Linked DNA regions of Homo sapiens: region 2 is linked to region 1. A link means that fine-mapping ties the variant in region 1 to the expression of a gene that starts in the linked region. Tissue or cell type: blood mononuclear cells. Region 1 holds a variant in brackets; the other region holds the start of a gene. All regions are shown on one strand. Distances are between the middles of the regions.

The links. PIP is the estimated chance that this variant, and not a neighbour inherited with it, causes the effect.
Region 2: DUS2 starts here. The variant in region 1 is fine-mapped to the expression of DUS2 in blood mononuclear cells (TOPMed, PIP 0.91).

The regions. Positions count from the first base shown.
Region 1 is chr16:67,993,259-67,999,120 of GRCh38, reverse strand. The region is part of intron 1 of DPEP2 (dipeptidase 2); the gene reads left to right. Among named protein-coding and RNA genes, the nearest start is that of DPEP2, 3.3 kb to the left of the region's middle. RefSeq lists an enhancer at 698-1,214 and a silencer at 5,546-5,805. The variant AAGAAAAAAAAT/T (reference allele first, on the strand shown) is at 2,752.
Region 2 is chr16:68,020,277-68,026,138 of GRCh38, reverse strand. It overlaps DUS2 (dihydrouridine synthase 2), which reads right to left and starts at 2,855. Exons shown (of 17, transcript NM_017803.5): 1 at 2,788-2,855; 2 at 645-724. It overlaps DDX28 (DEAD-box helicase 28), which reads left to right and starts at 2,907. Exons shown (of 1, transcript NM_018380.4): 1 at 2,907-5,223. The coding sequence starts at 2,937. The coding sequence ends at 4,559. RefSeq lists enhancers at 2,755-2,994, 2,705-3,455, 3,456-4,206.

The sequences.
Region 1 (5,862 bases):
ACAGTAGCAAGATTTACTGCAAAGAGCAAAAGAACAAAGCTTCCACAGTGTGGAAGGGGACCAGAACAGGTAGCCACTGCGGGCTCAGGCAGCCTGCTTTTATTCTCTTATCTGGCCCCACCCACATCCTGCTGATTGGTAGAGCCGAGTGGTCTGTTTTGACAGGGTGCTGATTGGTGCGTTTACAATCCCTGAGCTAGACACAAAGGTTCTCCACGTCGCCACCAGATTAGCTAAATACAGAGTGTCGACACAAAGGTTCTCCAAGGCCCCACCAGAGCAGCTAGATACAGAGTGTCAGTTGGTGCATTCACAAACTCTGAGCTAGACACAGGGTGCTGATTGGTGTGTTTACAAACCTTGAGCTAGATACTGAGTGCCGACTGGTGTATTTACAATCCTGAGCTAGACGTAAAGATTGTCCACGTCCCCACCAGACTCAGGAGCACAACTGGCTTCACCCAGTGGATCCCGCACCAGGGATGCAGGTGGAGCTGCCTGCCAGTCCTGCGCCATGCGCCCGCACTCCTCAGCCCTGTGGTGGTCGATGGGACTGGGCGCTGTGGAGCAGGGGGCGGCGCTCACCGGGGAGGCTCCGGCCGCACAGGAGCCCATGGAGGGGGTGGGAGGCTCAGGCATGGAGGGCTGCAGGTCCCGAGCCCTGCCCCCCCGGGAAGGCAGCTAAGGCCCGGTGAGAAGTCGAGCGCAGCGCCTGTGAGCTGGCACTGCTGGGGGACCCAGTACATCCTCCGCAGCCACTGGCCCGGGTGCCAAGCCCCTCATTGCCCGGGGCCAGCAGGGCCCGCGGGCCGCTCCGAGTGCGGGCCCGCCAAGCCCACGCCCACCCGAAACTCCAGCTGGCCCGCAAGCGCCGCTCGCAGCCCCGGTTCCCACTCGCGCCTCTCCCTCCACACCTCCCTGCAAGCTGAGGGAGCTGGCTCTGGCCTTGGCCAGCCCAGAAAGGGGCTCCTACAGTGCAGCGGTGGGCTGAAGAGCTCTTCAAGTGCCGCCAAAGTGGGAGCCCAGGCAGAGGAGGCCCCGAGAGCGAGCGAGGGCTGTGAGGACTGGCAGCACGCTGTCACCTCTCATTAGGAGCTGCCAATATCAGTGGCACAGACCTGAGCACAGGGATAATTTGGGGTCAGAGGCTACAGTCTAAGTTAGCTAGATGCTGGCAGTGGGCAGAGTGGAAACAAGGCAGAGGCGGGGAAACTCAGGGCCTGACTCCAGAGCCGACCTTAAGTGTCACCGCTGATTCCTCCTTACTGTCTCCCACCAACCCTGCTTCAAAGCATCTCCAAATCCTGGGTTCAACTTCCAAACATGTCCCAGGAATGTCTCCTTCCTGTTCCCACTGCTTCTCCCCCTTACAGGCCCCTTCATTCCTTACCCCTCCTGATCTCCTGGCCTCCAGCCCATTCCCTACAGAAAAGCCATACCTATTTCTTCCATTTTAAAAAATGTGAGCTGGGCGCGGTGGCTCATGCCTGTAATCCTAGCACTTTGGGAGGCCAAGGTGAGTGGATCACGAGGTCGGGAGATCAAGACCATCCTGGCTAACACGGTGAAACCCCGTCTCTACTAAAAATACAAAAAATTAGCCGGGCGTGTTGGCGGGCACCTATAGTCCCAGCTACTCGGGAGGCTGCGGCAGGAGAATGGCCTGAACCCGGGAGGCGGAGCTTGCAGTGAGCCGAGATTGTGCCACTGCACTCCAGCCTGGGCGACAGAGCGAGATTCCATCTCAAAATAAATAAACAAATAAATATAAAAATAAAAAATTTGGCCAAGGGTCGGGGGTGGCTCATGCCTGTAATCCCAGCACTTTGGGAGGTCAAGGCAGGCGGATCACCTGAGGTCAGGAGTTCGAGACCAGCCTGGCCAACATGGCAAAACCCCATCTCTACTAAAAATACAAAAATTAGCCGGGAGTGGTGGCATGCGCCCGTAATCTCAGCTACTCGGGAGGCTGAGGCAGGAGAATCACTTGAACCCAGGAGGCAGAGATTGCAGTGAGCCAAGATTGCACCATTGCACTCCAGCCTGGGCAACAAGAATGAAACTCTGTCTCAGAAAATAATAATAATAATAATAATAATAATAATAATAATAATAATAATATCATTATCTATTTTTTTACAGACAGGGTCTTGCCCTGTCACCCAGGCTGGAATGCTATGGTGTTATCATAATGCTCACTGCAACTACAAGTGTGGGTGTGTCTGTGATTCGCTTTGTATGGTCCCCTCAAGGCCACATTTGAGGACTGAAGTTGCATATCATGGAAAATTGTGTTGTCTGGCTTATCTCCTACAGAGACAGTGCTCACTTTTACTGGCTCAACTCAGCCTGCCTCTGCTGAGCTAGCAGGTACCCCAAGTCCCAGGAGGTCAGACATTCGGGCTCTGGAGAGAAGCTTAAAAAAAAATGCAAAAAGTTGGCCGAGTGCGGTCGCTCACACCTATAATCCCAGCGCTTTGGGAGGCCGTGGTGGGTGGATTACCTGAGGTCAGGAGTTCAAGACCAGCCTGAACAAAATGGAGAAACCCCATCTCTACTAAAAAATACAAAATTAGCCAGGTGTGGTGGCACATGCCTGTAATTCCAGTGACTTGGGAGGCTGAGGCAGGAGAATCACTTGAACCCAGGAGGTGGAGGTTGCAGTGAGCCAAGATCACATCATTGCCCGCCAAGATCACATCATTGCCCTCCAGCCTGGGCAACAGGAGCAAAACTTTGTCTCAAAAAAAA[AAGAAAAAAAAT/T]TCAAAAAGTTGAATTCTCCTCACCTACTCTGTCAGCTGTTATTTATTTATTCCTACCTACCCCTTCCTTATTTTTACATTTTTCAAACTGACAAATAATAATTGACCAGCCTGGGCAATATAGTGAGACCCTGTCTCTAAAAAAAAAAAAAAAAATAGCCGAGTGTGGTGGCGAGTACCTGTAGTCCCAGACTCGGGAGGCTGAAGTGGGAGGATTGATTGAACCTGAGAGGTTAAGGCTGCAGTGAGCTGAGACTGCACCACTGCAGTCCAGCCTGGGTGACAGAGCAAGACCTTATCTCAAAAACAATAATAATAATAATTTGCACATATTCATGGGGTACATAGTGATTTTTGTTGTTGTTGTTGTTGTTGTTGTTGTTGTTTGGCGGGGGGAGACAGGGTCTCGCTCTGTCATCCAGGCTGAAGTTCAGTGGCCCAATCTCGGCTCACTGCAACCTCTGCCTCCTGGGTTGAAACGATTCTCCCAACTCAGCCTCCCAGGTATTTGGGACTACAGGCGCGCACCACCAAGCCCGGCTAATGTTTGTATTTTTAATAGAGATGGGGTTTCCCCATGTTGGCCAAGCTGGTCTCGAACTCCTGACCTCAGATGATCCACCCACCTCGGCCTCCCAAAGTGCTGGGATCACGGGTGTGAGTCACTGCGCCCCACCCATAGTGATGTTTCAATACATATAACACATAATGATCAGGTTCAGTTCCTCATTCTTTATGCCCCTTACCTCTTGGGGCTCTCAGAATAAACTGTTTATCCCCAAAACCACATCTTTGACCTGGAGACCAGCAAATCCAAGAGCTTCTCCTCCCTCTCACTATTCCAGTGGGTGTGGGGAGCTGCTGACCAGCAGTGGATGATGGAGAGAAGGAGGGAAGCCTGTGTTGGGGTACCCAAACCACCCAGATCTGGGACACGCCCTACTGTTCTCTGAAGCAGAGCCCAAGAGGACTCACCATCTGCAGTGGGCCTCCCTATAGAACCCTCCAGCAGGGCTGGGCACAGTGGCTCACATCTATACTCCCAGCACTTTGGGAGGCCAAGGTGAGATCATCACTTGAAGCCAGAAGTTTGAGACCAGCCTGGGCAAGAAGGCAAGACAGTCTTTAATTAAAAAAATAAATAAAAAATAAAAAAAAAGCCCAGGTGCGGTAGCTCACTCCAGTAATCCCAGCATTTTGGGAGGCTGAGGCAGGCAGATTGCTTGAGACCAGGAGTTCGAGACCAGCCTGGGCAACATGGCAAAACCCCATCTCTACTAAACAACAAAATTTAGCCGGGCGTGGTGGCGCATGCCTGTAGTCCCAGCTACTCGGGAAGTTAAGGCACAAGAATCGCTTGAACCCAGGAGGTGGAGATTGCAGTGAGCCAAGATTGTGCCACTACCCTCTAGCCTGGGCAACAAAGTGAGACTCTGTCTCAAAACAAACAAAAAAAGACCCCCTTCGGCAGCAGTAGACGTGACAGTTAACCCACCTCGAGCACTCGGCCATCGATCTGCCTTCCTCCTGGACAGCAGACACTGGGCAACATCAAGTGTGCAGTCCCTAAAATACATCAAAGCTGGGATCACTTCCCCTCCTGGGTAGCTTGGGACCTCCAGTCCCTTTGGAAGAGTTGGTTCATTTTCTTTTTAGGAGGCCTTCTTGAATCTCTAGTCGTCGTCAGGCTTAGGTCACACTACCCATGCACTGATCAGCCCTGCCACGTGGGGGAGGCTCCAAAAAATGAAGCGGTTCCAGGGGTGCCAAGGTTCAGAGCAGAGTCTTGAGAGCCTGAGGGGCAGGAGGAGGCAAAGGTCTCTGAGGACGAAGGGGTTTGGCCACAGTCCCGGAAGATCTCAGGTCGTGGGGCTTCTGTGAGCGGGCACATCCCCTGTGCCTGTGTGATTGTGAGCTTGTGTGCTTGTGTGGTTGGGGGTCCTTCCTGGAGGAGGCATCTAGGTTGAGGGCCCCAGGCCGGGAATGGGGTGGGGCCTGTCGTCAAGGAAGGGACTCAGCCCTGGAGGTTTCTGTGAGAGCTCAAGCCACAGGAGCCACAAGATAAGAGGAGTGTGGCTGCAGAACCCAGGTGGCAGGGCTTTCCTCAGGCCCCTTACTCCTGACCTGGACGAGGCCGGGGCTTCCTCAAGGAGGTAGGAGGTATCCTGGCCAGCAGATCAGCCAGAAGCTCTAGGAGGAAGGTGCTGCGGCCGGGGACTCTGCTGCCCTAGACAAGACTTCATTTCCTTCCATGCAGATGGCTGTGTGGGTTCCTGCTCTGTTGAGTGAATGTTCCCTGGCAGTGGCCAGATGCTTGCTGCGCTCTCATCCCTCCACTGGGGTCCTGGGGAGGTGTGGCAGCTCCTTAGGAAGGAGCTCTTTCCTAAGGCTGATTGGAGAATGTGCGGTCGGGGCGGGGGGCGGAGGAGTGCTCCTGACAGGTCCTAGTAGCTGGGAGATTCCCCAGAGTATAGGCTTGAGGGCCTAAGTTACGGGAGAGAGAAGGTCAGGGCCAGGGGGCCCCTTCCTGAATCCAGTCCACAGGGTTAACCCCTCATTTCCAGAGCCTATCTTCTCCCCCACACCCACCCACACAACCCAGCACCAGGAAATCCAGAGCCCAGAGCACTGTGGTCACAGGGACACATGTGGCCCTGGGTGTGGCCGGGACACGTTGCAGGCGGTTGGGGACATGACGTGGTCTGCAGATCTCCCAGGGCAGGGCAGAGGGCCACTGTTTGGGGGAAGCACCCCAGGCCCTCTCTCTTAGAGAGAGAGCCTAGGGGCAGCAGAGGAGCCACCTGGGTCGGCCCCCTGGGGACAGTGGGAGGAGTAAAAGGGAGGGTGGAGGGCCCTAAGACAGGCCGCGAGTGGGCGCCCAGGACAGGGATCCGCCCAGCCGGCGGGAGCGCCCTTGGGGATGACGGCGGGAGGGCTGGGCGCCCCCTGGTGGCCGTACTGGGCGGTGCCGCCGCTCTCCGCACATCCTTCGCGGGGCCCTGTGACTTCGTTACCCTCCTCTTGAGGCCACGCCGCCAGGTGGCCTGAATCGAGGGTCGGGACTCCATCGTCGCGCTCTGCCCCTCGCCCGCCCCTCTCA
Region 2 (5,862 bases), 27 kb before region 1:
CGTGCCTGTAATCCCACCTACTGGGGTGGCTGAGGCAGAAGAATCACTTGAACCTGGGAGGCAGAGGTTACAGTGAGTCGAGATGGCACCACTGAAGTCTAGCCTGGGTGACAGAGCAAGACCTTGTCTAGGCCTTAACCCAAATCAATTAAATCAGAATGTAAACTCCACAAGGGCAGGGATTTTGGCTGTTTTCCTCACTACCAATGCCTGGCACATGCGTGGTGCTCAGGAAGTATTTGTTGAATGAATGATTGAATGAATGAATGAATATACCATTATTAACTGAGATCCAAGGAACACACCAAGCTCCTGATCTCAGGAGCTTAGATTTTTTTTCACAATAAGGATACCTTTCCTATTTCTAAAGCACTACTTATAAAAATATCTCAGAAAACATTTAGAAGTTAATCAATGTCCTCTGTGAGTGAGGGGGAAAAAAGGTAGGCAGTGTCTAGTGATGTGACAAGAAGAAATTAGTGGCCACGGACACAGACAGGCTTAGGCAAGCTCTAACTCCTGTGAAATTTTGAGGTAATCATATTGTAAGGACTCAAGCATAATGAGAAAACAACTATATATTAACCAGCTACCCTACCCTGGATATTTGAACAAAACCCAAAAACCCAAATGCATATACATACCTATTATTTTGTTCTGATACTTCAGGATTACTTTGATATATGTGTTCTGGCTTTGTACAGAGTAATTCTTTGTTTGATATCTGAAAAACAGTGGCACATGGAAATGGATGAAACCTGTTGGGACAAACATCCAAGGGACCTTTTTTTTTTTTTTTTGAGACAGAGTCTCGCCCTGTCGCCCAGGCTGGAGTGCAATGGTGCGATCTCGGCTCACTGCAACAACCTCCGCCTCCCGGGTTCAAACGATTATCCTGCCTCAGCCTCCCGAGTAGCTGGGATTACAGGCATGAGCCTGGCCCCAAGGAACTATTTGGATAAGGAGAAGCCCTGAGTTTGGAAAGAATCATAAAAGTAGCATAGAATTGGGCCGGGCACAGCGGCTCACACCTGTAATCTCAGCACTTTGGGAGACCAAGGTGGGCAAATCATGAGGTCAGGAGTTTGAGACCAGCCTGCCCAACGTAGTGAAACCCTGTCTCTATTAAAAATACAAAAATTAGCTGGGAGTGGTAGCGCACACCTCTAATCCCAGCTACTCAGATGGCTGATGCAGGAGAATCCCTTGAACCCAGAAGGCAGAGACTGCAGTGAGCTGACATCGCACCACTGTACTCCAGCCTGGGCAACACAGTGAGACTGTCTATAAAAAAAAAAAAAAAAAAAGTATCCAGCCATTGTCAAATATGGTGGGAGGGAAAGGGCAAAATCACCCTTGTTTTAGAACCACTACCCTATCCAATGACTGTTCATTCACCCATCACTACTCAAAACTTTCTCTTCCTACTTCCAGATATTTTCTTGTGGAGAAAAAAAGCCTCTCTTCCTCTGATTTATCTGGTAACTCTCCAGAAAGTCTAATTGTGTAGCACAAGGGTAGAGTGTACTTAAAATTGTGAAAGTTTTTCCTCATACTATTCCAAAAAAAGCAAAGTTTTTATCTTTTCATTGGTATTTGATGAAACTAAAACGTTTTCTCCAGATGTTACGAACCTCCCAGAGAGTTAATCCATAAATATTTACCTTATCTCCCACCCCAGGCACTGCAAATTACAGAAAAGATCTGACACCCATTTTCCAGATCTGTTCAAGAAGTATCTGTTGGGCATGGTGGCTCACGCTTATAATCCCATCACTTTGGGAGGCCGAGGTGGGAAGATCGCTTGAGGCCAGGAGTTCGAGACCAGCCAGGCCTACATAGTGAAACCCTGTCTCTACTAAAAACAGAAAAAATTAGCCGGGCGTGGGTGGTGTACGGCTGTAGTCTCAGCTACTTGGGAGGCAGAGGCAGGAGAATCACCTGAACCCAGGAGGTGGAGGTTGCAGTGAGCCGAGATTGCGCCACTGCACTCCAGCCTGGGTGACAGAACGAGACTGTGTCTCAGAAAAAAAAAAAAAAAAAGTGACTCGTATAGTTCTTGTTTTTACAACCCGAATATCTGAATTCAGGTAAAATATTCTGCCTGACCAGGGCTACATGATAAGCCACGTACTTGATCACTTTGTAGGGTCGCAGCACCCTTCTTACTACTATTTTAGGTAATTCAGGTTTCTGACGGGGAAGCCAGTGGAGCTGAGCGGGCTGCAAGAGGGGTGGGTTCTGGATGAGAAGTTGGGACGCGTGACGAGGGAGTAGAGAGTGAACCTTGGCTTAAAAGGAAGGAAAATAACTGTGAAGAAAAGATGACCCAACTTGAAATAAAACCTGAAGACCTTATCTCCCACTTGAGAGAGAGAAGAAGCTGAAAGCCATCAGCTTGCACTCTGGGCTCACAGACAGAGAGGGTGAGGGGTTGAGCCCAGATCTATGACTTCAGACCCCTGTCTCGGCCCCTAGGCCTGATCATTCATTCAAACTCTCAATAAACACGGATTACCAGACCCTGCGCAGGGAACACATCTGGGAAAACAGCTGCAACCTCGGATACCAGCACGGGACAAGCTATCTCAGGGCAATGAGGAACAACTAAAGAGAATCCCAGGAACCAGGTAACCAATCGCCAGAAGCCCTCCGCCCTCATGGTCCATTGGGTCAAGGCCCCACTGCCGCCTCGTATCGCCAGCCTCCAGTCCTGCCTCCACGACGCGCCCTTCCCCAAGGCTGGCCGGGTCTGGATGTCGCCATCCCCTATTCGGAGCTACAGACCTCGCAGCTGAACTCTTAAAAAGAACCTCGCTTCTTCCTCACGGTGCTCCAGCTCCACACACCGTACTGAGCCTCGCCAGCCACCGTACGCGAGGTCGCGGCGCGTCCGTGACGTCACTGATGTGCGCTTCTCCCGCACTAAGGGAAACATGGCTCTAACGCGGCCGGTGCGGCTCTTTTCCCTCGTGACTCGGTTGCTCCTGGCGCCGCGACGGGGCCTCACGGTCCGCAGTCCCGACGAACCCCTGCCGGTGGTGCGCATCCCAGTGGCTCTACAGCGGCAGTTGGAACAGCGGCAGAGCAGGCGGCGGAACCTCCCGAGGCCGGTGCTGGTTCGACCCGGACCGCTGCTGGTTTCGGCGCGGCGGCCGGAGTTGAACCAGCCGGCGCGCCTCACACTGGGCCGTTGGGAGCGCGCGCCGCTAGCCTCTCAAGGCTGGAAGAGTCGACGCGCGCGTCGGGACCACTTCTCCATCGAGCGCGCGCAACAGGAGGCGCCAGCGGTGCGAAAGCTCTCGTCTAAGGGCAGCTTTGCTGACCTGGGCCTGGAGCCCCGTGTGCTGCACGCACTACAGGAGGCTGCGCCTGAAGTCGTTCAGCCCACAACCGTGCAGTCTAGCACCATCCCCTCACTACTTCGCGGCCGCCATGTCGTTTGCGCCGCAGAAACCGGCAGTGGCAAGACTCTCAGCTACCTCCTGCCGCTGCTTCAACGGCTCTTGGGCCAGCCAAGCCTGGACTCCCTTCCTATCCCCGCGCCCCGAGGCCTGGTCCTTGTTCCTTCCCGAGAATTGGCCCAACAGGTGCGGGCTGTGGCCCAACCCTTGGGCCGCTCCTTGGGCCTGCTGGTGCGGGACCTGGAGGGAGGCCACGGCATGCGTAGGATCAGGCTGCAGCTGTCCAGACAGCCTTCAGCAGATGTGCTTGTGGCCACTCCAGGGGCTCTGTGGAAGGCCCTGAAAAGTCGACTGATCAGTCTGGAGCAACTCTCCTTCTTGGTGTTGGATGAGGCAGACACACTGCTGGATGAAAGCTTCCTGGAACTGGTGGACTACATCTTAGAGAAGAGCCACATAGCAGAAGGCCCAGCTGACTTGGAAGACCCCTTCAATCCCAAAGCTCAGTTAGTGCTGGTAGGAGCCACATTTCCCGAAGGTGTAGGCCAGTTGCTGAATAAAGTCGCCAGCCCAGATGCTGTCACCACCATCACCAGCTCCAAGCTCCACTGTATCATGCCTCATGTGAAACAGACATTTCTGAGACTGAAGGGAGCAGATAAGGTGGCCGAGCTGGTGCACATCCTCAAGCATCGTGACAGAGCAGAAAGGACTGGTCCCTCAGGAACTGTTCTGGTGTTCTGTAATAGCTCCAGCACTGTGAACTGGCTGGGATATATTCTGGATGACCACAAAATCCAACACCTAAGGTTGCAGGGGCAAATGCCAGCCTTGATGAGGGTAGGAATCTTCCAGTCCTTCCAGAAGAGCTCCCGAGACATACTTCTCTGCACAGACATAGCCTCTCGGGGCCTGGACAGCACTGGTGTGGAGCTGGTTGTCAATTATGATTTCCCCCCAACGCTGCAAGATTACATCCACAGAGCAGGGAGAGTGGGCCGTGTGGGGAGCGAGGTGCCAGGCACCGTCATCAGTTTTGTGACCCATCCCTGGGATGTGAGCCTGGTTCAGAAGATTGAGCTGGCGGCTCGCCGAAGGAGAAGTCTTCCAGGACTAGCATCCTCGGTGAAAGAGCCTTTGCCCCAAGCAACCTGATTTTGACAAATCTGATTAAAATGTGATGCTAGAACAGGGATCTTTCCCAGTATCTTGAGTGGGTGACCACACTTGTCAGTGGGAGGCTCTGGGCTGCCCTGTCGGCTCCTTGAGGGCGGGATGAACTGCTTTGTGACTTGGAAAGGTACGCTGCTGGCCAGCATTGGAGAAGAAGCTGCTGAGCATGGCTTTCTGTAGTCTTTAGCAAGACACAAGTGGATTTTGACTTTGTATCATGTCATGATTTCTAACAATAAATGATGTTTTTATGTGCCTCCCCTAAGAATAATTAGCACCGGGGCGGAATTCAGTAGTTTCTGAGGATTCATACACCAAACCTCCACATCTAGGACAAAGGCTCTTTCAGTTGATGTTTTCATTTATAAACATTTAGTTTGTATTTCCTGCCCCCAAAAAGGTATCCATTAAGCCCCCAGGGAAAGGAAAGGAAAGGAAATGTGACTAGCAGTAGACAGAGTTACTCTCTAACAATGCCCAAGACAAACGGGCGTCTTGGCGAAATCTCTGGAAGGTACTGGCAGAAAAGTAAAGGGTAGACGAACACAGAAGTTTTGCTTGTACATTTTCAGGTTCTGCCTTCTATCCCAACTCGGTAGCCGAGAAAGAGGAGAGATGATTAAACGGTTTTACAAAACTGGAAAAATAACCATATAGCATTTTCTTTATATATATATATACGTATATATATATATATATATATATATATACATACGTATATATATATATACACATACATATATATACGTATATATATATATGTATATATATATATACGTGTATATATATATACGTGTATATATATATGTGTATATATATATATACACAAAAAAAAATTACAAAAATCAACCCGGCGTGGTGGCACGCGCCTGTAGTCCCAGCTACTCGGGAGGCTGAGGCAGGAGAATCACTTGAACCTGGGAGGCGGAGGTTGCAGTGAGCCAAGATCATACCACTACACTCCAGCCTAGGGGACAGAGCAAGACTCCATCTCAAAAAAAAAAAAAAAAAAAAGCCGGGTGTGGTGGCTCACGCCTGTAATGCCAGCACTTTGGGAGGCTGAGGCAGGAGGATCACCTGAGGTCAGGAGTTTAAGACCAGCCTGGTAAACATGCGAAACCCCATCTCTATTAAAAATACAAAAAAATTAGCTGAATGTGGTGGTGCACGCCTGTAATCCCAAATACTTGGGAGGCTGAGGCACAAGAATGGCTTGAATTCTGGAGGCGAAGGTTTCAGTGAGCCAAAATTGCACTTCTGCACTCCAGCCTGGGTGACAGAGCTG